Linked DNA regions of Homo sapiens: region 2 is linked to region 1. Evidence: fine-mapped expression QTL. Tissue or cell type: whole blood. Region 1 holds a variant in brackets; the other region holds the start of a gene. All regions are shown on one strand. Distances are between the middles of the regions.

The links. PIP is the estimated chance that this variant, and not a neighbour inherited with it, causes the effect.
Region 2: it holds the start of PPFIA1, and the variant in region 1 is fine-mapped to the expression of PPFIA1 in whole blood (TOPMed, PIP above 0.99).

Annotation. Positions count from the first base shown.
Region 1 is chr11:70,210,012-70,220,582 of GRCh38, forward strand. LOC124902705 (a long non-coding RNA gene) reads right to left here and starts at 2,461. Exons shown (of 3, transcript XR_007062761.1): 1 at 2,278-2,461. RefSeq lists enhancers at 2,788-3,597, 3,598-4,407, 4,408-5,215, 9,758-10,458. The variant G/A (reference allele first, on the strand shown) is at 5,142.
Region 2 is chr11:70,265,038-70,275,608 of GRCh38, forward strand. PPFIA1 (PPFI scaffold protein A1) reads left to right here and starts at 5,653. Exons shown (of 28, transcript NM_003626.5): 1 at 5,653-5,877; 2 at 7,136-7,399. The coding sequence starts at 7,136. RefSeq lists silencers at 5,238-5,787, 5,828-6,257.

The sequences.
Region 1 (10,571 bases):
CTATACTTTGTAACTCACAAGTGTCTCTCCCATCCACCTCTTCTGCTACCTGCCGCCACCCCCACTCCCAGTGGGGCCTCAGCCCTTTCCACTGGACAACCACAGTGAGTGACCTCGCAATTCATCTTCCGCCTCTGCCCCGCCTTCCACCCATCCAGCCCATCTCCCATCAGCAGCCAGAAATAAACTGAGTCATAACACAGTCCCCTGACTCTTCTTAGAAGCCACGAACTCTGTCCATATTTTTTTGTTTTATATTTTTATTCCCGTGATAATTAATCTGAGTCATCTTGCTGACTGCTTTCTAGCCACACAAATCCTGTGTGAATTGCATTTGGAATCAGACAGGCAAACATGACGTGGGGTAGCATGTGCTCATGCCAGAGTGACCCGTCCCCCAGTGTCTGCTGAGATAAAGGCAAGACTTCTCTTTTACAGGGAAATTTGCAATTGAAAGATACTTCCATCAAAGAAGCTCTTAGTTTCTTGAATCATTTACTAAGTTGAGACCCCGTGGCAAGAATCATGGATGCCAACCCCAGTAATGGTCACCAAGGAACAGAGGCCAATTCAATGCATGAATGGGGTCCTCATGGAAAGCCAAATGACATATGATTTAAGTTTTTGAGGTGTGGCTCAAATAGAAAAAGAATATCGTGGACCATTTGAGTCACCCCCAGGCACATGGCAAGTACAAGGCCTTCCAAACTCCCACGCCTCCTTGATGACAGTCTGTAGACATGAAGCTACAATTTTGTTTCAGCAAAACAGCATCATACATACTGTTTAATGATTAAACAGAATGCACTTCTGTTTGGAATGAATTAAAAATGCTGAGCCCGGCACAGTCGTTCACGCCTGTAATCTCAGCACTTTGGGAGGCTGAGGTGGGAGATCTCTTGAAGCCAAGAGTTCAAAAGCCTGGGCTGCAAAGCAAGACTCCATCTCTAAAATATAATAATAATAATAAATAAATTAGGCCGGTGTGGTGGCTCATGCCTGTAATCTGAGCATTTTGGGAGGCCAAGGCGTGCAGATCACATGAGGTCACTAGTTCAAGAACAGCCTGGCCAACATGGTGAAATCCCATCTCTACTAAAAATACAAAATTAGCTAGGTGTGTTGGTACATGCCTGTAGACCCAGCTAATCAGGAGGTTGGGGCAGAAGAATTGCTTGAACCTGGGATGGGGAGGTTGCAGTGAGCTGAGAACACGCCACTGCACTCCAGCCTGGGCAACAGAACAAAACTCTTTCTCAAAATAAAATTTAAAAAAAATAAAATAAATTAGCTGGCCACAGTGGTATATTCCTGTAGTTCCAGCTACTTGGGAGGCAGGAGGATCACTAGAGCCCAGGAGTTCAGGGCTATAGTGAGCCATCGTTGCGCCACTGCACTCCAGCCTGGGCAGCAGAGCAAGACCCTGTCTCAAAAAACAGAGGAAAGAAAAGAAAGGAAAAAATAGTAATCATACCTGACGTTAAATATGTTATTAATCTGAATTCTACGAGTTTTGTAGGCTTCTCTCTCCCCAATTTGCAATTTTATTGGCGATTTATAGTTTCCAAGGGCTAGACACATGGGCTTCTATTCCACATCTGGCTATATATTTGTGCCTATTGATGTTTCATTATTGAAATGAAAACCTGGTCATCATGGGAGTCTGGGCAATGTTTTACTACTTCCAAATCAGTTTCTGGCTGGAGAACCCCAGCTACAATGTCCCCATGTCCCTCAGGATGAAATCTTTTTTTTTTTTGAGGTGGAGTCTCGCTCAGTCGCCCAGGCTGGAGTGCAGTGGCGTGATCTCAGCTCACTACAAGCTCCGCCTCCCGGGTTCACAGCATTCTCCTGCCTCAGCCTCCCGAGTAGCTGGGACTACAGGCATCCGCCACCACACCCGGCTAATTTTTTGTATTTTTAGTAGAGACGGGTTTTCACCATGTTAGCCAGGATGGTCTCGATCTCCTGACCTCATGATCCACCCACCTCGGCCTCCCAAAGTGCTGGGATTACAGGAGTGAGCCACCGCGCCTGCCCAGGATGAAATCTTAATCCATGCATCATCATGCATGGGACGGGGTACACAACTGTGCAGAGCCCAGCCCAGTGCCATGTTCCCTCCACAGCAAGACTGTCACCTCACCCCCTCCCACCCTCCCCCGCAGCCCTTGCCCCTGCTGTTTCCTCTCCCTGCAGCCTTCCTCACTATCCACCCCAAGCCCCCCAGCTCAGAAGACATCCTTCTGATGCAGGCTTGCCCATGCACCCACTCACAGTGGGATCCCTGCAGCCCCCACTCCTGCCCGGGTCCTGCTTCCTCTAGCGCGACTCCCTGAGGGCTGCTTCCAGCACTTTCCAGCGGCTTCTGAGTGAAGGCTTATTTTGTGTTTGCTGAGTGAATGAGTAAACAGCAGCGATCAAAGGCCCACTAGCGTCTCTCAGGGGCCTGAGTTCCTTGCAAGCAGGAAAGCAAAAGATGCCTCCGCCCCAGGGTTTCAGATTCCTGGATTCCCCTTCAGCTTTCACTTTTGGTTGGGCTTCCCAGCCCAGTCAGTCGGACTGTGAAAGCACCTGCCCCGCAGTAGGCACGGGCAGGGCAAGAGGGCATCTTCTCAGGGGAGCCAGGTATGCCCCTTGGTCTGCCACCCATGCATCATATGCCCCTGTTCCCTGAGCCTCTGCTCCCCGCCCCTGGTCCACATACCCCCGCCCCGGTGCCCTTCACTCTGACCAGGCCCAGTGAGCTCCAGCCAGGAACCCCAGGGAGGAGTCCCCACCACCTGAGTCACTGCAGGCCATCCCAGGGGTCCTACTCGCCAGGAAGGGTTGACGCCCACGTACACATACACCTCTGGGCTCCTGGCACTCTGAGCTGTATGTTTCATTCTGGTTCATTCACCATTCATTCATTTACTCGGTAGATTCTTAGCAAAGGGCTACCAGCTCAGACCGGGAGTGGCCAGCTCTTCTCCCTCACCAATGCTCCCTCTCCCAGCAATGTTGTAAGGTTCAATGAGATGTGGTGTGGCGAGGTCTGGGGGTGACAGCCCAGGATAAACGTCACTAAATGTCATCATTGTTACTATTCTTAAGGAACTGCCTGTTTTAAAACAAGCAGCCTTAAAATTAAAGTGTAGGTATGGGGCCAGGCACAGTGGCTTACACCTGTAATCCCAGTACTTTGAGATGCCAAGGTCGGCATTTCACCTGAGGTCAGGAATTCAAGACCAGCCTGACCAACATGGTGAAACCCTATCTCTACTAAAAATACAAAAAATGAGCCAAGTGTGGTGGCGGGTACCTGTAATCCCAGCTACTTGGGAGGCTGAGGCAGGAGAATCACTTGAACTTGGGAGGCAGAGGTTGCAGTGAGGCAAGATTATACCACTGCACTCCAGCCAGGGCAATAGAACGAGACTCGGTCTCAAAAAAAAAAAAGGCCAGGCACAGTGGCTCACACCTGTAATCTCAACACTTTGGGAGGCCGAGGCAGGCCAACCACTTGAGGTCAGGAGTTCGAGACTAGCCCAGCCAACATGGTGAAACCCTGTCTCTACTAAAAATACAAAAACTAGCTGGGCATACTGGTGGACACCTGTAATCCCAGCTACTCAGGAGGCTGAGGAAGGAGAATCACTTGAACCTGGGAGGCGGAGGTTGCAGTGAGCCAAGATTGTGCCACTGCACCCCAGCCTGGGTGACACAGCAAGACTCTGTCTCAAAAATAAATAAATAAATAAATAAATAAATAAATAAAAGTGTTGTTATGGTAAATAAATAAATAAATAATAAAACAAACCCTGTGGCGGCAAGAAATACCAGATTTAATAAGGTAGATCTAATAGACTGAACTCTACTACTAAGAGGCATTGCGTGGCCAGGAGGCTGGCCTCAAGCCGCCACCTGGTTTTGAGTCTCAGCTCTTCTACTTAGTTTCACTTGCGTCCATGTAAAGAGACCACTAAACAGGCTTTGTGTGAGCAATAAAGCTGTTTATTTCACCTGGGTGCAGGCGAGCTGAGTCCGAAAAGAGAGTCAGCGAAGGGAGATAGGAGTGGGGCCTTTTTATAAGATTTGGGTAGGTAAAGGAAAATTACAGTCAAAGGGGGGTTGTTCTCTGGCGGGCAGGAGTGGGGGTCACAAGGTACTCAGTGGGGGAGCTTTTGAGCCAGGATGAGCCAGGAGAAGGAATTTCACAAGACAATGTCATCAGTTAAGGCAGGAACAGGCCATTTTCACTTCTTTTGTGGTGGAATGTCATCAGTTAAGGCAGGAACCGGCCATCTGGATGTGTACGTGCAGGTCACAGGGGATATGATGGCTTAGCTGGGGCTTAGAGGCCTGACATTCCTGTCTTTTTTTTTTTTTTTTTTTTGAGACGGAGTCTCGCTCTTTCGCCCAGGCTGGAGTGCAGTGGCGCTATCTTGGCTCACTGCAAGCTCCGCCTCCCGGGTTCACGCCATTCTCCTGCCTCAGCCTCCCAAGTAGCTGGGACTATAGGCGCCCGCCACGGCGCCCAGCTAATTTTTTGTATTTTCAGTAGAAACGGGGTTTCACCGTGTTAGCCAGGATGGTCTCGATCTCCGGACCTCGTGATCCGCCCGCCTCGGCCTCCCAGAGTGCTGGGATTACAGGCGTGAGCCACCGTGCCCGGCCTCTGTCTTCTTATATTAATAAGAAAAATAAAACGAAAGAGTGGTAAAGTGTTGGGATGGTGAAAATTTTTTGGGGATGGCATGGAGAGATAATGGGTGATGTTTCTTAGGGCTGCTTCAAGTGGGATTAGGGGCAGCGTGGGAACCTAGAATGGGAGAAATTAAGCTGAAGGAAGATTTTGTGGTAAGGGGTGATATTGTGGGGTTGTTAGAAGAAACATTTGTCGTGTAGAATTATTGGTGACGGCCTGGATATGGTTTTGTATGAATTGAAAAACTAAATGGAATAAGAGAAGGAGAAAAACGGGTATAAAAGGTCTAAGAATTGGGAGGACCTAGGACATCTGATTAGAGAGTGCCTAAGGAGATTCAGCATAGTCCGGTCAGCAAAGATTCTTTATTTACTTCAAGAGTTAAGAGTGGCAGTTTGGGGATAGCACCAGGAGATATCAGCTGTGATGGCTTGGAGAAACAGTGTAAACC[G/A]GCAGTGTAAACAAGAGCAGGGCATGTATGAGTAGTTGAGAACGGTGAATAGGAGTATGACTAGACAGAAGATAGTAGGGATGACAAGTTTTTTGGGGGCACGGTCTAAGTTGGTCTGGTGTCTGGAATAAGACTGGGGCCTAATAAAAAGGAGTGTCTCTACAGGAGCTCAAATGGGCTGCACCTTGTAGTATTCTGAGGACAGGTCTGACTTCTGAGAAGGGAAAGTGGTAAAAGTATTGTCCAGTCCTTTTTAAGTTGGTGGCTGAGCTTGGTGAGGTGTGTTTTTAAGACTATTAGTCTGTTCTACTTTTTCTGAAGACTGAGGACTGTAAGGGATATAAAGGTTTCACTGAATACTAAGAGCCTGAAAAAATGCTTGGCTGATTTGGCTAATAAAGGTGGGTCTGCTATCGGACTGTATAGAGGTGGGAAGTCCAAACTGAGGAATTATGTCTGACAGAAGGGAAGAAATGACCGCAGTGGCTTTCTCAGACCTTGTAGGAAAGGCCTTTACTTATTCAGTGAAAGTGTCTACTTAGACTAAGAGGTATTTTAGTTTCTTGACTCGGGGCATGTTGAGTAAAGCTAATTTGTCAGTCCTGGGTGGGGGCAAATCCTTGAGCTTGATGTGTAGGGAAGGGAGGGGGCCTGAATAATCCTTGAGGAGTAGTAGACTAGCAGATGGAACGCTGAGAAGTTATTTCCTTGAGGATAGATTTCTACGATGGAAAGGAAATGAGAGGTTCTAAAAGGCAGGCTAGTGGCTTGTACTATAGCATAGCCTGTCTTTGCTGGTGTGTGGCGAGTAGGCCTGGTGGAACTGCCATCAATAAACTAAGTGTGATCAGGGTGAGAAACAGGGAAGAAGGAAATGTGGGGAAATGAGGTGAACATCAGCTGGATCAGAGAGATGAAGGAGCCGGGGAGCAGAAAGTATATGCATCAGGTGTGAGGAAGAAAATAGATTTTGGAAATTATGAGAGCTGTAGAGAGTGAGTTGAGCATAGTTTGTGATTTTAAGGGCCTCTGAAAGTATTAGGGTCAGTAGCCACTGCACAGAGACATGATGGCCAGCCTAAAACAGTAAGGTCAAGTTGTTTGGGCAAAAAGGCTACAGGACGCGATCCTGGTCCTTGTGTAAGAATTCCAACTGCACAGCCCTGCACTTTGGCTGTGTGTAATGCAAAGGGTTGGGATGAGTCAGGGAGAGCTCAGGTGGGGGCAGTCTCTAAAGCTGTCTTCAAGGAACAGAAAAAGGAGTGGGGAAAGGATTTAGGATCTGTGGGGTCAGCTAGGTTTCTTTTTGTGAGTTTATATAATGATTTTGTTAGGATGGCAAAACCAGGTATCTAAAGTTGAAAGTATCTAACCATGCCTAGGTTGTAGAAGGTGTTGGGGTTTGAGAGATCAGTCAGACACGATCGGCAGGGAGAGCGCGTGTGTTTTTATAAGAATTACGCCAAGACAGATAACAGATGAGGAAGAAATTTGGGCTTGACTGAAGTAATGGGGGCTGTCTGTGAAGCCTTGCAGCAGTACAGCCCAGGTAATTTGCTGAGCCTAATGGGTGTCAGGGTCAGTCTAAGTGAAAGCAAAGGGAGGCTGGGATGAAGGGTGCAAAGGAATAGTAAAGAAAGCATGTTTGAGATCCAGAACAGAATAATGGGTTGTAGAGGGAGGTATTGAGGATAGGAGAGTATATGGGTTTGGCACCACGGGGTGGATAGGCAAAACAATTTGGTTGATAAGGCGCAGATTCTGAACTAACCTGTAAGGCTTGTCTGGTTTTAGGACAGGTAAAATGGGGGAATGGTAAGAAGAGTTTATAGGCTTTAAAAGGCCATGCTCTAACAGGCAAGTGATAATAGGCTTTAATCCTTTCAAAGCGTGCTGTGGGATAGGATATTGGCATTGAGCGGGGTAAGAGTGATTAGGTTTTAATGGGATGGTAAGGGGTGCATGATCGGTCGCCAAGGAGGGAGTAGAGGTGTCTTATACTTGTGGGTTACGGTGGGGAGATACAAGGGGAGGATGTGAAGGAGGCTTTGAACTGGGGGAAAAGGTGGCAATGAGGTGTGGATGTAGCCTAGGAATAGTCAGGGAAGCAGATAATTTAGTTAAAGTGTCTCCGCCTAATAAGGGAACTGGGCAGGTGGGGATAACTAAAAAGGAGTGCTTAAAAGAGTATTGTCTAAGTTGGCACCAGAGTTGGGGAGTTTTAAGAGGTTTAGAACCTGGCTGTCAATATTTACAACAGTTATGGAGGCAAGGGAAACAGGCCCTTGAAAAGAAGGTAATGTGGAGTGGGTAGCCTCCGTATTGACTAAGAAGGGGATGGACTTACTTTCCACTGTGAGAGTTACTTAGAGTGTCTGTGATGGTCCTGTAGGCTTCCAAGGCGATCGGCAGTGCCAGTCTTCAGCTGCTAAGCCAAGAAGATCTGGGAAGGAGTCAGACGGCCTTGGGCCAGAGTTCCAGGGGCTCTGGAAGTGGCTGCCAGGTGAGTTGAACAGTCCAATTTTCAGTGGGGTCCTGTACAGATGGGACATGGCTCAGGAGGAATCCTGGGCTGTGGGCACTTGTAGCAAGCTCCTGGGGGAGGAGGTTCTGGAGGAACCCCTGGCAGCTGCGGTTCAGGCGTTTGGAGTTCTTGTGTGCTGGAGATGTGGCTGGGGTTTGTCTCACAGTGGAGGCAAAGAGTTGCAACTCAGAAATATGTTGCTACTTGGCTGCCTCCACTCTATTATTGTACACCTTGAAGGTGAAGTTAATTAAGTCCTGCTGTGGGGTTTGAGGGCCAGAATTTAACTTTTGGAGTTTTATTTAATGTCGGGAGCAGACTGGGTAATAAAATGTATATTGAGAATAAGACGGCTTTTTGACTTTTTAGGGTCTAGGGCTGTAAAGCGTCTCAGGGTTGCCGCCAAACGAGCCATGAACTGGGCTGGGTTTTTCATATTTGATGAAAGAGCCTAAACGCTCACTGATTTGGGAGAGGTCTGATAAAGAAAAATGAGTATTAACCTTGACTATGCGTTTGGCTTCAGCCACCTTTTTAAGAGGAAATAGCTAGGCAGGTGGGGGAGGGCTAGTCATGGAATGAAACTGTAAGCCGGACTGGGTGTGAGGAGGGGAGGTGATAAAAGGATTATACGGTGGAGGAGCAGAGGCTGAGGAAGAATTGGGACCTAGCTCGGCCTAGTGAGGAGGGGAGAGGTCAGATGGGTCTGTAGAAAAGGAAGATTAGAAAAACTCAGCGACACTTGGGGTTGGGACTGAGGAGACAGGCAGGAGGGAAAGAAGGAAGATTTGGGACTAGTTGCACTGGGCAGAGAGACTAGGGAGGGACAGATGTGTAAAAGAATGCCTGGACGTCAGGCACCTCAGACCATTTGCCTATTTTTCGACAAAAATTATTTAGGTCTTGTAGGATGGAGAAATCGAAAGTGCCGTTTTCTGACCATTTAGAGCCATTGTCAAGTTTGTATTGGGGTCAAGCGGCATTGTAGAAGAAAGTAAGGCATTTAGGTTTTAGGTCAGGCAAGAGTTGAAGAGGTTTTATGTTCTTAAGAACACAGGCTAAGGGAGAAGAAGGAGGAATGGAGGGTGGAAGGTTGCCTATAGTGAAGGAGGCAAGTTTAAAGAAAAGGGAGAGTAGAGACATGGAGGGAAGCGGTTCGGGGGTTCTTACCTTCCAGAAAAGCAGGAAAGGGGTCGGGGCACAGAGATACGAGGTTGGGGCACGGAAATAAGGGAGCAGGGTGCAGAGATATAAGAGGTTGGGGCACAGAAATAAGGGATTGGGGCACAGAGATATAAGAGGTCGGAGCGTGGAAATAAGGGATCGGGGCGCAGAGATACAAGGTTGGGGTACATGCCCCTCCCCCAGAAAAATGGGACTTGCTGCTAAGGGTGAAGGAGAAGGGGCTGGGGGTTTCTTGCCTTACAGAAAGGTGGAGAAGGGGTAGAGACATGAAGAGAAGGGGTTGGGGTACTTGCCCCTCCCCTAGAAAAGTGGGACTTGCTGCTAAGAGTGAAGAAGAAGGGGTTGGGGATTTCTTGCCCTCCAGAAAGGTGGAGAAGGGGTAGAGACACAGAGAGAAGGGGTTGGGGTACTTGCCCCTCCCCCAGAAAAGCGGGACTTGCCGCTATGGGTGAAGGACCAAGGCAGGCGTCCTTGCGTGGTCTGACACCTCTGAAACATGGGTGAATAATCAGAGAGGTGTCCTTGCAATGATTAAACACCAAGGGAAGGCTGCCTTCCTAGTCCGTGACCAGTGCTGGAGTTTTGGGTCCACGGATAAAACGTGTCTCCTTTGTCTCTACCAGAAAATGAAAGGAATTGAAATTAAAAGAAGGGAGAGATTGAAGTGTGGCGCCAAGATTGAAAGGAGAAACAGGTTGAGGGATAGTGAGGGAGGTTGGAGAAGAGAGTAAAAAGAGGCTGCTTACCGGATTTGAAATTGGTGAGATGTTTCTTGGGCTGGTTGGTCTGAGGACCTGAGGTCATAGGTGGATCTTTCTCACAGAGCAAAGAGCAGGAGGACAGGGGATTGATCTCCCAAGGGAGGTCCCCCGATCCGAGTCACGGCACCAAATTTCACTCACGTCCGTGTGAAGAGACCACCAAACAGGCTTTGTGTGAACAATAAAGCTGTTTATTTCACCAGGGTGCAGGTAGGCTGAGTCCGAAAAGAGAGTCAGTGAAGGGAGATAAGGGTGGGGCCGTTTTATAGGATTTGGGTAGATAAAGGAAAATTACAGTCCAAGGGGGGTTGTTCTCTGGCAGGCAGAGTAGGGGTCACAAGGTGCTCAGTAGGGGAGATTTTGAGCCAGGAGAAGGAATTTCACAAGACAATGTCATCAGTTAAGGCAGGAACAGGCCATTTTCACTTCTTTTGTGGGAGAATGTCATCAGTTAAGGCAGGAACCGGCCATCTGGATGTGTACATGCAGGTCACAGGGGATATGATGGCTTAGCTAGGGCTTAGAGGCCTGACACTTAGCATCTGTGTAAACTTAGACAAGTAAACCCATCCACAAAATGGATGATTACAGTAGCTACCTAGAAGGGATGTTGTGAGGATTCTGTGACTTGTTTGTAAACTACAGAGTAAGTACACCAGTAAAGATGTGTTCAGCCTCTCTTGTTACAGGTGTGATCACACCATCATGATGTGATTTTGTAACAGGATGATTTTGTAACACGATGACATTTTGTAACAGACACAGAGCCAGGGACAATACCACTGAGCTGCTGAAGCAACCCGCCCTGCTTCTGGCCTCCAAGTCACATGAGCTAATACTTTAAAAAAAAAAAAAAAAGCATTATACGGGCCAGGCACAGTGGCTCACACCTGTAATCCCAGCACTTTGGGAGGCCGAGGTGGGCAGATCACTTGAGGTCAGGAGTTCCAGACCAGCCTG
Region 2 (10,571 bases), 55 kb after region 1:
GGAGGCCGAGGTGGGTGGATCATCTGAGGTCAGGAGTTTGAGAGCAGCCTGACCAATATGGTGAAACCTTGTCTCTACTAAAGATACAAAAATTAGCTGGGCGTGGTGGCGCATGCCTGTAATCCCAGCTACTCAGGAGGCTGAGGCAGGAGAATCATTTGAACCTGGGAGGCAGAGGTTGCAGTGAGCTGAGATCGTGCCACTGCATTCCATCCTGGGCGACAGAGTGAGACTTCATCTCGGAAAAAAAAAAGAATGAAATGAGATGAATAAGTAAAATGGTAGCTCTTGGCCCTGGGAATTGAATTATTTCGGCTGCACTGCAGACCAACTGGTAAAATGTTTTCTCTTCAGTTGTTCCTTAAAGAGGCCACTCCTTGATCACAACGACGTGGGGACAGGACGGGGAATTGAGAGCCCTGGGTTCACTCAAGGCTCCACCTCCAGCTCTGCCCCAAACTCTCTGAGTGTCTACAGGGAAATCTGTTTTGCATCTCTGGGTTTCAGCTCCCTTCTCTTAAAGGAACGACCACATCCTCCACCATCTACTGCCCTAGGGCTCCTCCAGCTCAGACCTCCCCCTGAACTGTGTTGTCACAGCACTCATTCATTAGGTGGCTTTACATGTTCTGGGTAGATTTGGGCACATCCTGATCTCTATGATTGAGGTCAGACCACAACGATCCCCGCAGGAACCTCCTTCTTAAGCCGCTTACATCTCTGGAGTGGAGAGGTGTCCTGAGTGATGCTCATGGTTGACAACTAACTGCATCATCCAGGCACCTTCTAGAGAGCAGAGGCTGGCTGACCTCCACCGCAGCCACATTTGCAAACATGAAACCCCAGGAGTAGTGATAAATTCTCTGCTCCCTCCTCACTCCTTCTATCATAATTTCTTTATCAAGTCTTTTACAGAAGAACTGGAGTGAAAACATTTTCCATCTTCACTGTTTTCCTGACAGAGCCTTGGGTGACAGCATGTCACCCAAGCTCTGAGAAATGTTTTCCAGATAAATACTTCTGGGAAGTAGTTTAGCTGGGTGGTATGAGTAAATCCATCTGAAAGTCATGTTAGCTTCCTGAAAGCAGTTCTCCATGGTTCTCACTTGTCCAGATTGAATTTTAATGAACATTTATTGGAGGTTTTCCTATTGATTATAATAATGACGCACATTCATGATAAAGTATCTAGAAAATAAAGACTAGCAAAATGAAAGAAATGCAGCTTCCAACCACAATCCCACTTAAAGATAACCACCGCGAACATTCTGATGGATCTCCTTCCAAGAATATATACATATATATATGCGGGAAGTGGGGAAAGATAAAGAACTAATTGACTACAGTAACAATATTTTCTTATGTAGACATATGTTTTTCTTTCATAATTTGAAACTTAAAATTTAATTTCTCATTTCAAGAATAGTTCATGTCATATAAAACTCATTTTATTAAAAATGTATCACCTTAACATTCTAGAGTTATTCATCTACAAGGTAAATTTTACATAATACATTCTTAATCTAAACACAGACTGTTTTCTTTTTCAAATTGGGGTTCACACTCTGTATACTTGTTTGAATTTGCTTTTTTAAAAAAGTTTTTGTTTATGTATAAAAATTAAGGCATACTCTACATATTAATGTACAGTTATTTGACAAACGTATATAGTAATGTAACTACCACCACAATCATGATATATGTAGTTATCTAAAATATGACTGTGGGCCAGGTGCGGTGGCTCACACCTGTAATCCTAGCACTTTGGGAGGCTGAGGTGGATGGATCACCTGAGGTCAGGAGTTCGAAACCAGCCTGTCCAACATGGTGAAACCCAGTCTCTACTAAAAATACAAAAATTAGCCAGGTGTGCCTGTAATCCCAGCTACCCAGGAAGCTGAGGCAGGAGAATCTCTGGAACCCCAGGAGGCGGAGGCTGCAGTGAGCCGAGATCACCCCACTGCACTCCAGCCTGGGCGACGGGGCAAGATTCAGTCTCAAAAAAAATGACTGTGAATGTCACCAAGTTTTCTGTCATTTGGAAGTGCAATAATTTAACCAATCTTGTTTTCTTGGCCATTTAGGTTGTTTACGATTTCCCCCTTACTGATTTTGCGATCTGGGGGAATGAAATAATAAATGAATTAAAATGAATGAGGGCCATGAGTGGTGGCTCATGCCTGTAATTCCAGCACTTTGGGAGGGTGAGGTGGGAGGATTGCTTGGGCTCAGGAGTTTGAGACCATCCTGGGCAACATGGTGAAACCTCTTTTCTACCAAAAATACAAAAAAGTTAGCCAGGCATGGTGGTCTGCGCTGGTAGTCCCAGCTACTTGTTGGGGAGCTGAGGTGAGATGACTGATGGGCCTGGGAGGTAGAGGCTGCAGTAAACTGTGTTCGAACCACTATATCCCAGCCTAGGTGACTACATGAGACCCTGTCTCAAAAAAAAAAAAAAAAAGAGAGAGAAAAAGAACAAAGGAAGGGTAAGGGGAGGGGAGGGAGGGAGAGAGAGAGAGGAAGGAAGGAAGGAAGGAAGGAAGGAAGGGAGGAAGGAAGGAAGGAAGGAAGGAAGGAAGCAAGGAAGGAAGGAAAAAGAAAGAAAAGAAAGAAATAAAATGAAATTCAGAATTCTCATTTTCCTGGAGCTATACCAACTGGGTGTCTCCCTTCTCCGCTGGAAAAATCCCACATCATTCAAGACCCAGCTCAGATATTGCCTCCTCTATGAAGCCCCCATGATGCCAGCTGGAGAGCGGGTTCCTCCCTTCCCTGTGATTCCACAGCACCAAGTCACACACTGTTTACGGGACAGACATTGCAATAGTCTGTTTTTCTTCTCTTTCTCCAGACTGTGAACTCATACTAGAAGTGATGTCTTAGCTCTGCGTTCCCAAGACCTAAGCCATGCTTGGCTCATACATGCTGCACAAATATTCATGAAATGAATGAACATTCTACCCTGCCGAACTAAATTTTGATCTTGAGCCGATTTTTCTTTTTTTTTTTTTTTTTGAGATGGAGTCTCGCTTTGTTGCCCAGGCTGGAGTGCAGTGGCGCGATCTCGGCTCGCTGCAAGCTCCGTCTCCCGGGTTCACGCCATTCTCCTGCCTCAGCCTCCCGAGTAGCTGGGACTACAGGCGCCTGCCACCACGCCCGGCTAATTTTTTGTATTTTTAGTAGAGACAGGGTTTCACTGTGTTAGCCAGGATGGTCTCGATCTCCTGAACTCGTGATCCGCCTACCTCGGCCTCCCAGAGTGCTGGGATTACAGGCGTGAGCCACTGCGCCCGGCCTTGAGCCGATTTCTTAGAAAACAGACACTTTATGAGCATGGTGCAAACATAAGCTGGCTGCATTAAGCAGGTACCCCTAAGGAGAGCTGGAAATTTGCTGGTTTCAGACAGTGGTTCAGGGGAACTTGGGAGTTGTGCAGAATTGCTGGGGTGTGGAGAGGTACAGGGTACTTGCAGAACACCTCATCTAAGCGATCAACTTTACAATTTTATTATTTTTGAGACAGAGTCTCGCTTTGGCACCCAGGCTGGAATGCAGTGGCACAATCACAGCTCACTGCAGCCTCGACCTCTCAGGCTCAAGCGATCCTCCCACCTCAATCCCCCAAGTACCTGGGACTACAGGTGTGGCCCACCTTGCTGGACTAATTTTTAATTTTTTGTATAGACATGGGTCTCGATATATTGCCCAGGCTCAAGCAATCCTCCCACGTTGGCCCCCCAGCGTGCTGGGATTACAGACGTGAGCCACTGCACCTGGCCAATGTTTTTTTTTTTTTTTTTTTTCTGAGACAGAGCCTCGCTTTGTCTCCCAGCCTGGAGCGCAGTGGCATGATCTCCTCATTGCAACCTCCACCTCCCAGGTTCAAGCTATTCTTCCACCTCAGCCTCCTGAGTAGCTGGGATTACAGATGCCCGCCACCACACCCGGCTAATTTTTGTATTTTTAGTAGGGATAGGGTTTCACCATGTTGGCCAGGCTGGTTTTGAACTCCTGACCTCAAGTGATCTGCCCACCTGGGTCTCCCAAAGTGCTGGGATTACAGGCTTGAGCCACCGCACCCGGCCTCACCTGGCCATTTTTACACTTTTAAAATAGCAAGAAACTAGGGGCAAAAAGTACATATTCATATCTATGTGTAGTCAGTCAATAAATATTTATTGAATGAACGAATAAATTAATGGAAGGTGTTCCAGATCCTGGTAGGCGAGAGTCAGTCGGAGGGAGTGCTTGTTCTTGGTGCACTCACAATGGAGAATCAAGGAATTCACCTTGGACGGGCTCATTTCTCCCTCTCCTAGGCCCCGTGCAGCCTCTTCTCAGACTTACTAGTTCTGAGGGGCTCCTGGCTGCCTCACACCAACAGCAGTGGCCAGTGGACACTGGCGATGGTGTCCTGACATTTTGGTTTGTGAAGAGTTTGTGCTCCGAGTCAAATCCTGGGAGGAGTGGGGAGGGCATCCGCTTTAATTAATTAGAGGTGTCTCTATTCATCTCCGTATCTGCAACATCTAGCACAAGACTTGGCCCATAGTAGATGTTTAAAAATTCTTGCTGAGGCCGGGCGCAGTGGCTCACGCCTGTAATCCCAACACTTTGGGAGGCTGAGGCGGGCAGACCACCTGAGGTCAGGAGTTCGAGACCAGCTCGACCAACATGTAGAAATCCCGTCTCTACTAAAAATACAAAATTATCTGGACTTGGTGGCGTGCGCCTGTAATCCCAGCTACACGGGAGGTTGAGGCAGGAGAATCACTTGAACCCGGGAGGCAGAGGTTGCAGTGAGCCGAGATGGCGCCATTGCACTCCAGCCTGGGTGACAAGAGTGAAACAACGTCTGGAAAAAAAAAAAAACTTGCGGAAAAGATGAAATGACCAAGACTCGCGCAGTGCTGCCCGTCAGGCTCTCAACTAGTCGCTCTTCACATCTGATTCATGTCTTAAAGCAGCCTCGCAGGTAGGTCTGCATCATTTTCCCATCCTACATCGGAGGCGCTGAAGCCCAGGCGGGTTTCCCGAGTCGCCCGGGCCCACGCTGCAGAGTGAAAGCCACAGCGGCAAAGCCTGCACTCTGGACGCTGCGCCGGGACGTCCCCAGGTGCGGCAGGCAGCGCTCCGTAAGTGGGTCCTGGCGGGAACTCCGTCCTTCTGAACCCAGATCAGGCCCAGGGAGACCGTAGGGGCGCCGCGGCGGGCGGGGTCTGGGTCCTCGGTGGTGACTGAAGCCTCGGTTCGCTCTTCTGCAAGGTGCGAATCCAGAGCCTCCAGCTCGGGAGGGACCTGACGTGCCGGACGCGTCCAGCTCAGAACTCGAGGCGCGGTAGACACTCAGCAAAGGCCTCCGGCGTCCCTGCAGCCGTGGGGGGAAACTGGGGACGCCCGGAGGAAGACGCTGACCCGGCGAGCACCTGAGCGCCCACCTGTGGCTCATCCCGGAGACCGCCCCCTCCCCCGCGACCCGGGCGGGGCCTGGGGGGCGTGGCTCCCGTCTCGCTCAGCCAATCAGTGCCCCGGGGCCGCCTCCCGCCCCCTCCTGAGGAGACAGCGCTTGCGTACTCGGGCCAAGGTGCTCCTCGGGCCCCGCCCCCGGGGCGGTGCTGACGCTCGCGCCGACGCGCTCGACGTCGGGCACGTAGACGCCGGCGCCGCGCAGCCGGGCCCGCTCCTCCTCCGCTCCGCCAGTGTCCGGCCGCGGGCCGGCCTTAGTGACTGGGGCGGCGGGCCCCGGGGCCGCGGCGTGGGGCGGGCAGGCGGACGCCGGCCGCGGGCTGCTTTCGTCGGCTCCCAAGCTCTCCCGGAGCGAGCAGCCGCCCGCGAGCCGCCGCGGAGCCTCCTCGCCCGCTCCCGCCGGCGAGCAAGGTAAGGGAGCGGGACACTGAGGCAGGCTCGGGGCCCAGGCGTCACCGGCGCGTCCCGGTCTCCGCGGCGGCCACGCAGCCGATTAGATGTCTCCGCGGGGAAGGGTGCGCTCCGGGACGGGTGGGGGCGAGGCCGCGGCGCCGGGTCGCGCTGGGAGAGCTCCGGCGGGACACCCGCGCCCCAAGGGACGGCTCCGGGGACTGCGCGCTGCCCCTCCCCGAGCCCCGCGCCCCGTGACCCGGGCGCTGGGGCGAGGGGCGGGGACCTGTGGCCGCTGAAAGCCCTGGCCCGAGCGGGCTCCGTTGTCAACGGTCCTCACCCCCCGGGGTTCGGGGCTTCCGCCGCACCTGATACAGGAGGGGAGGAGTGCGGCTCGAGCAGGCTGGAGGTCACCATCCCCATCAGGTGCGCCGTCTGGGGCATCCCCCTCTCAGGGGTCCACCGCGCCCCCAGTACTGCCCGAAAGGCTCAGAAGCGACTTCCCCTTTCCCTGGCGCTGTCTTTATATCCCAGACACTTAATAGACTCTCGTAATCTCACCTTTCACTTTTCCCTCTTTCCTAGCCGCCCCCGGCTGTATCGACCTGCTATATTTCCATTGTGGATTTTTTTTTTCGGTTGTAAACTTACGTAAGTTAGGTTGACCAACCGTTGCAGCCATTGGAAAACACTTCTACCAGCGTTTAACGAATCCGGTTCCTTTTAGTGCTCACCAAATCCAGCCCAAGAATTCAGGGAGCCGTCAGTTCTTCCCGGGAGCTGACTGCACACATTCCTGCAAGATGCCTGATGGATTTTGTACTTGTCAGTTTTGCTGGTTGTATGCTCCTTCTGTGCTTTTCCTGAAAAATGATTGGGTGACATGTGTTTTGACTTTCTCCCCCCCTACCCCCCCACCCTCCCCACCCCACTGGGAAGTAAAAAAAATAGGTAACAGAAGCACACTTGTTTTCAGCAAAAACAAGTACAGCTTTGCAAACAGACTACCCCAGGGCTTGCCCTTTTTTGTGAGGGTAGTCCTTTGGGATCTTGACCCCTTCCCTGGATTTTTGTCTGTGTTAATGTCTTCATGTTGTGTATTTTTGCACTTAATATTTGCCCTGTGTATGTTTTCCCAGCTTATTTACACACAAAGCATAACAGATCTGAGCATAATGAGACTGCCCATCTTTTTAGCTACAGATACCTGTAAAGTTGCATATTTGTGGGAACCTGTATTCTGAGCTTAATTACTGTAGCCTGGGTCTTTCATTTCAAGATGATGTGCGAGGTGATGCCGACCATCAGCGAAGCAGAAGGCCCCCCTGGAGGAGGTGGAGGCCATGGTTCCGGCTCCCCTTCACAGCCAGATGCAGATTCACATTTTGAACAGTTGATGGTCTCCATGCTAGAAGAAAGGGACCGCCTTCTTGATACACTGAGAGAGACTCAAGAAACGCTGGCCTTAACCCAGGGGAAGTTACACGAGGTTGGTCATGAAAGAGATTCCTTGCAGAGACAGCTCAACACGGCACTTCCACAGGTATGAGTGCTTTTAACCTGAAACTATAGATTTTTCTCCACTAAATGTTTTTTTATTAGTGTCATCTTTTGTTAATGTTTCAGATGAGTATTTTCCGTAACGATTTGTGAAATGATAGTTTCTGGTGTTTGTAAGTCAAATACAAAGTTCCTAGGGATTAAACTTCTTAGGGAGAACAAATCGTTGTACTCTAAAGTCATGTGAAAATACCTCATTATTTTCATTCCTATCTTTGGGAACTGCCTAGGTTCAGGAAGTTCTCCAGAGTTTTTGAAAAAGGGCTCTGAAGCAACCAATCTATTTGGTGCCTCCATTCTGTTGTCTTAAGCCTTTTCTGGCTAAACTTGTACTTCCCATGGATTATCTCATGTATTTCTAATTTCCTAATGTAATTTAATAGACAAATAGGATTGATTTCACGGAAAAAAAAAATTATTTTGATAGCCCACCTTTATCAGAACATCTAGGTTTTGTAAGTCACATTTGTTTTAGGGGATAGAAGACTCGAGATTGATTCCTTAGGAACTTTTTCCTTGGCAGATGAGAATTTTAAAGCTTAGGCCGGGTGTGGTGGCTCATGCCTGTAATCCCAGCACTCTGGGAGGCTGAGGCAGGCGGATCACCTGAGGTCAGGAGTTTGAGACCAGCCTGGCCAACATGGCAAAACCCTGTCTCTACCAAAAATACAAAAATTAGCAGAGCGTGGTAGCGCGCATCTGTAGTCCCAGCTACTCAGAGGCTGAGGCATGAGAATCACTTGAACCCGGGAGGTGGAGGTTGCAGTGAGCCAAGATTGCACCACTGCTCTCCAGCCTGTCTCAAAAAAAAAAAAGATTTTTAAAGCTTAGAACAACTGAAATTGTTTCTCTGAGTATGTTACATTTGGACCAGTGTTTGAAAGACTTTGCTCATGGAGTTGAATGAGGATTTACTTAATGGTAGGTAAAGGGAGAAAGTAAAAACTAGAAGAGTGTAAGGTGAGTGGCACGGGGCATAGTGGGAGAGAAGTGGGTTATTTATGTGTTTCAGAGCTGTCTAGGCGCCACGTTACTCATCATAAGTGCCTTTGGGGTGCATTCAGGTAGACCCGCATAAGCACACATTTATACTCGCATGATGGGTCTGCAGTGATAAATTAGTAAATGAATAAGTACTAGCCTTAATGTGTTTCTTGGCTGTAGTCAGTTCTCCTGAAAGATTGATAAGCCAAACGTGGGTTTCCTTTTTAGCAACAATAATTTGACGTTAGCGCTCTATGTTCCTTTTTTGTTGGATTAAAGAATCATTAAGATTTTTCTTATTTCAATCTTATAAATTACCAAGTTTATTTATGTTGAATTTTATTACTACAATTTTAAAAGAAGTAGCCAATTTATGTTTTACCAGGATTTTATTGTATTTGTAATTTAAGGTACACGTATTGAAGTGTATATCAAATACTAATATACTTAATAAGGTAGGTTTTGGAAAGAATGGGCACACAAGACATGTCAGGGAAGTGACAGGAGTTTTGTACAGTTAGTCGCAGGCTGTGGAGGTTGTCACACACACTGGTGACATGGTTGCTCAGTGATTTGTTTCTGGCACTGCTCAGTGTAGCAGCCTGGGAATGCCTAGTTCAGTGGATAACATGATGATGCCAACGGTTCACGTTACCACCTGAGCACCTGATTCCAGCCTTTCAAAAATGGAAACTATTAAGTAAACTTGTTTTGGACCCTTCCCTTTCCTGGCATCTGGTTCATCTTTGGTGGCTGGTAGTGTGACCAGATAATGAGTCCAGGAAGTGCATTTGTGCTCCTGGCACATTGTGGAGGCAAGTTAGAGTGTACTTAAAAATATACATAACTATAGCATACAGCAGAAAAATTCACAAATCGTAAGTATACATCTCAGTGGACTTTTCACAAAGTTAACACACTTGCATACCACCACCCAGATCAAGAAATGGAACATTATCAGGCTTCCTAGAAGTCCCCTCCTAACTATTCCCAGTAGTTGTCCCCCAGAGCTAACCAAGGTCTTGACCTTTCACCATTGATTACTTTTGCCTGTTCTTGACTTTGTTTAAGTGAAGTAAAATAATCTGTATGTTTTGCTTCTTCATTCTGTCGTCAGCATCATGTTTGTGAGATGCAGCTTGCTCATTCTCACCTGCTCTCTGGTCATCCCGTGCACGAACAGACAGAACTTATTCTTTCTACTGCTCACAGACATTTGGGGTTGTTTCCAGTTTTTACACGTGCTCCCCTAATATTGTTTGTTTTTTGGTGCAGATGTCTATAAACTTTTTTTTTTTTGAGATAGGGTCTCACTCTGTTGCCCAGGCTGGAGTGCAGTGGCATGATCTCGGCTCACTGTAGCCTCCACCTCCCAGGTTGAAGCGATTCTCCTGCCTCAGCCTCCCAAGTAGCTGGGAATACAGGCACGCATCACCACCCTCCGCTAATTTTTGTATTTTTTGTAGAGGTGGGGTTTTACCATGTTGCCCAGGCCGGAGGATATGTGTACACTTCTGTTGGATTTCTACAAAGAAGTGGAATGCAAATGATGGTGTGTGCATTTGTTCAGCCTCAGTAGAGAGTGCCAAAAGTGGTGGTTGTGACAGTTTGTACTACCCCAGCAATGTATGAGAAGTCAGTTGCTCCTATGCTCTTCAGCACTTGGTATTGTTGGGTCTTTACATTTTAGCTGTTCTGGTGGCTGTTAGCTGGTAGGTGGCTCAGTATGGTCTGAATTTGCTGCTCCCTGATGGCCAGGAACATGCAGAGGTAAAGCATCTCTACCTGTGTTCACTGGCCACCTGGATGTCTTTTGTGAAACGGTTATCTTTTGCCCATCTGTTGATTGGGTTGTCTGTTTTGTTTTTTACTGATTTGAAGGAGTTTTCTCTATATTCTGAGTACATATGTGCATGACAGATTGTTTTTAGACTCTTGTGTTTGCCTTTTCACTCTCTCAGTTGTATCTTTTGATACATAGAAGTGTAAAATTTTTAATGTAGCCCAGTTGATCCATCTTTTCAGTAATGTTTAATGCTCTTTGTGTCCTGTTTAAGAAATTTGCTTGGTCAAGTTCATGAGATATTCTACATTGTCTTCTAAAAACTATTTTTTAATCTTCCATCTGAAATTGACTTTGTTTATGGTATGCGATGGGGCCAAGAGTCTCT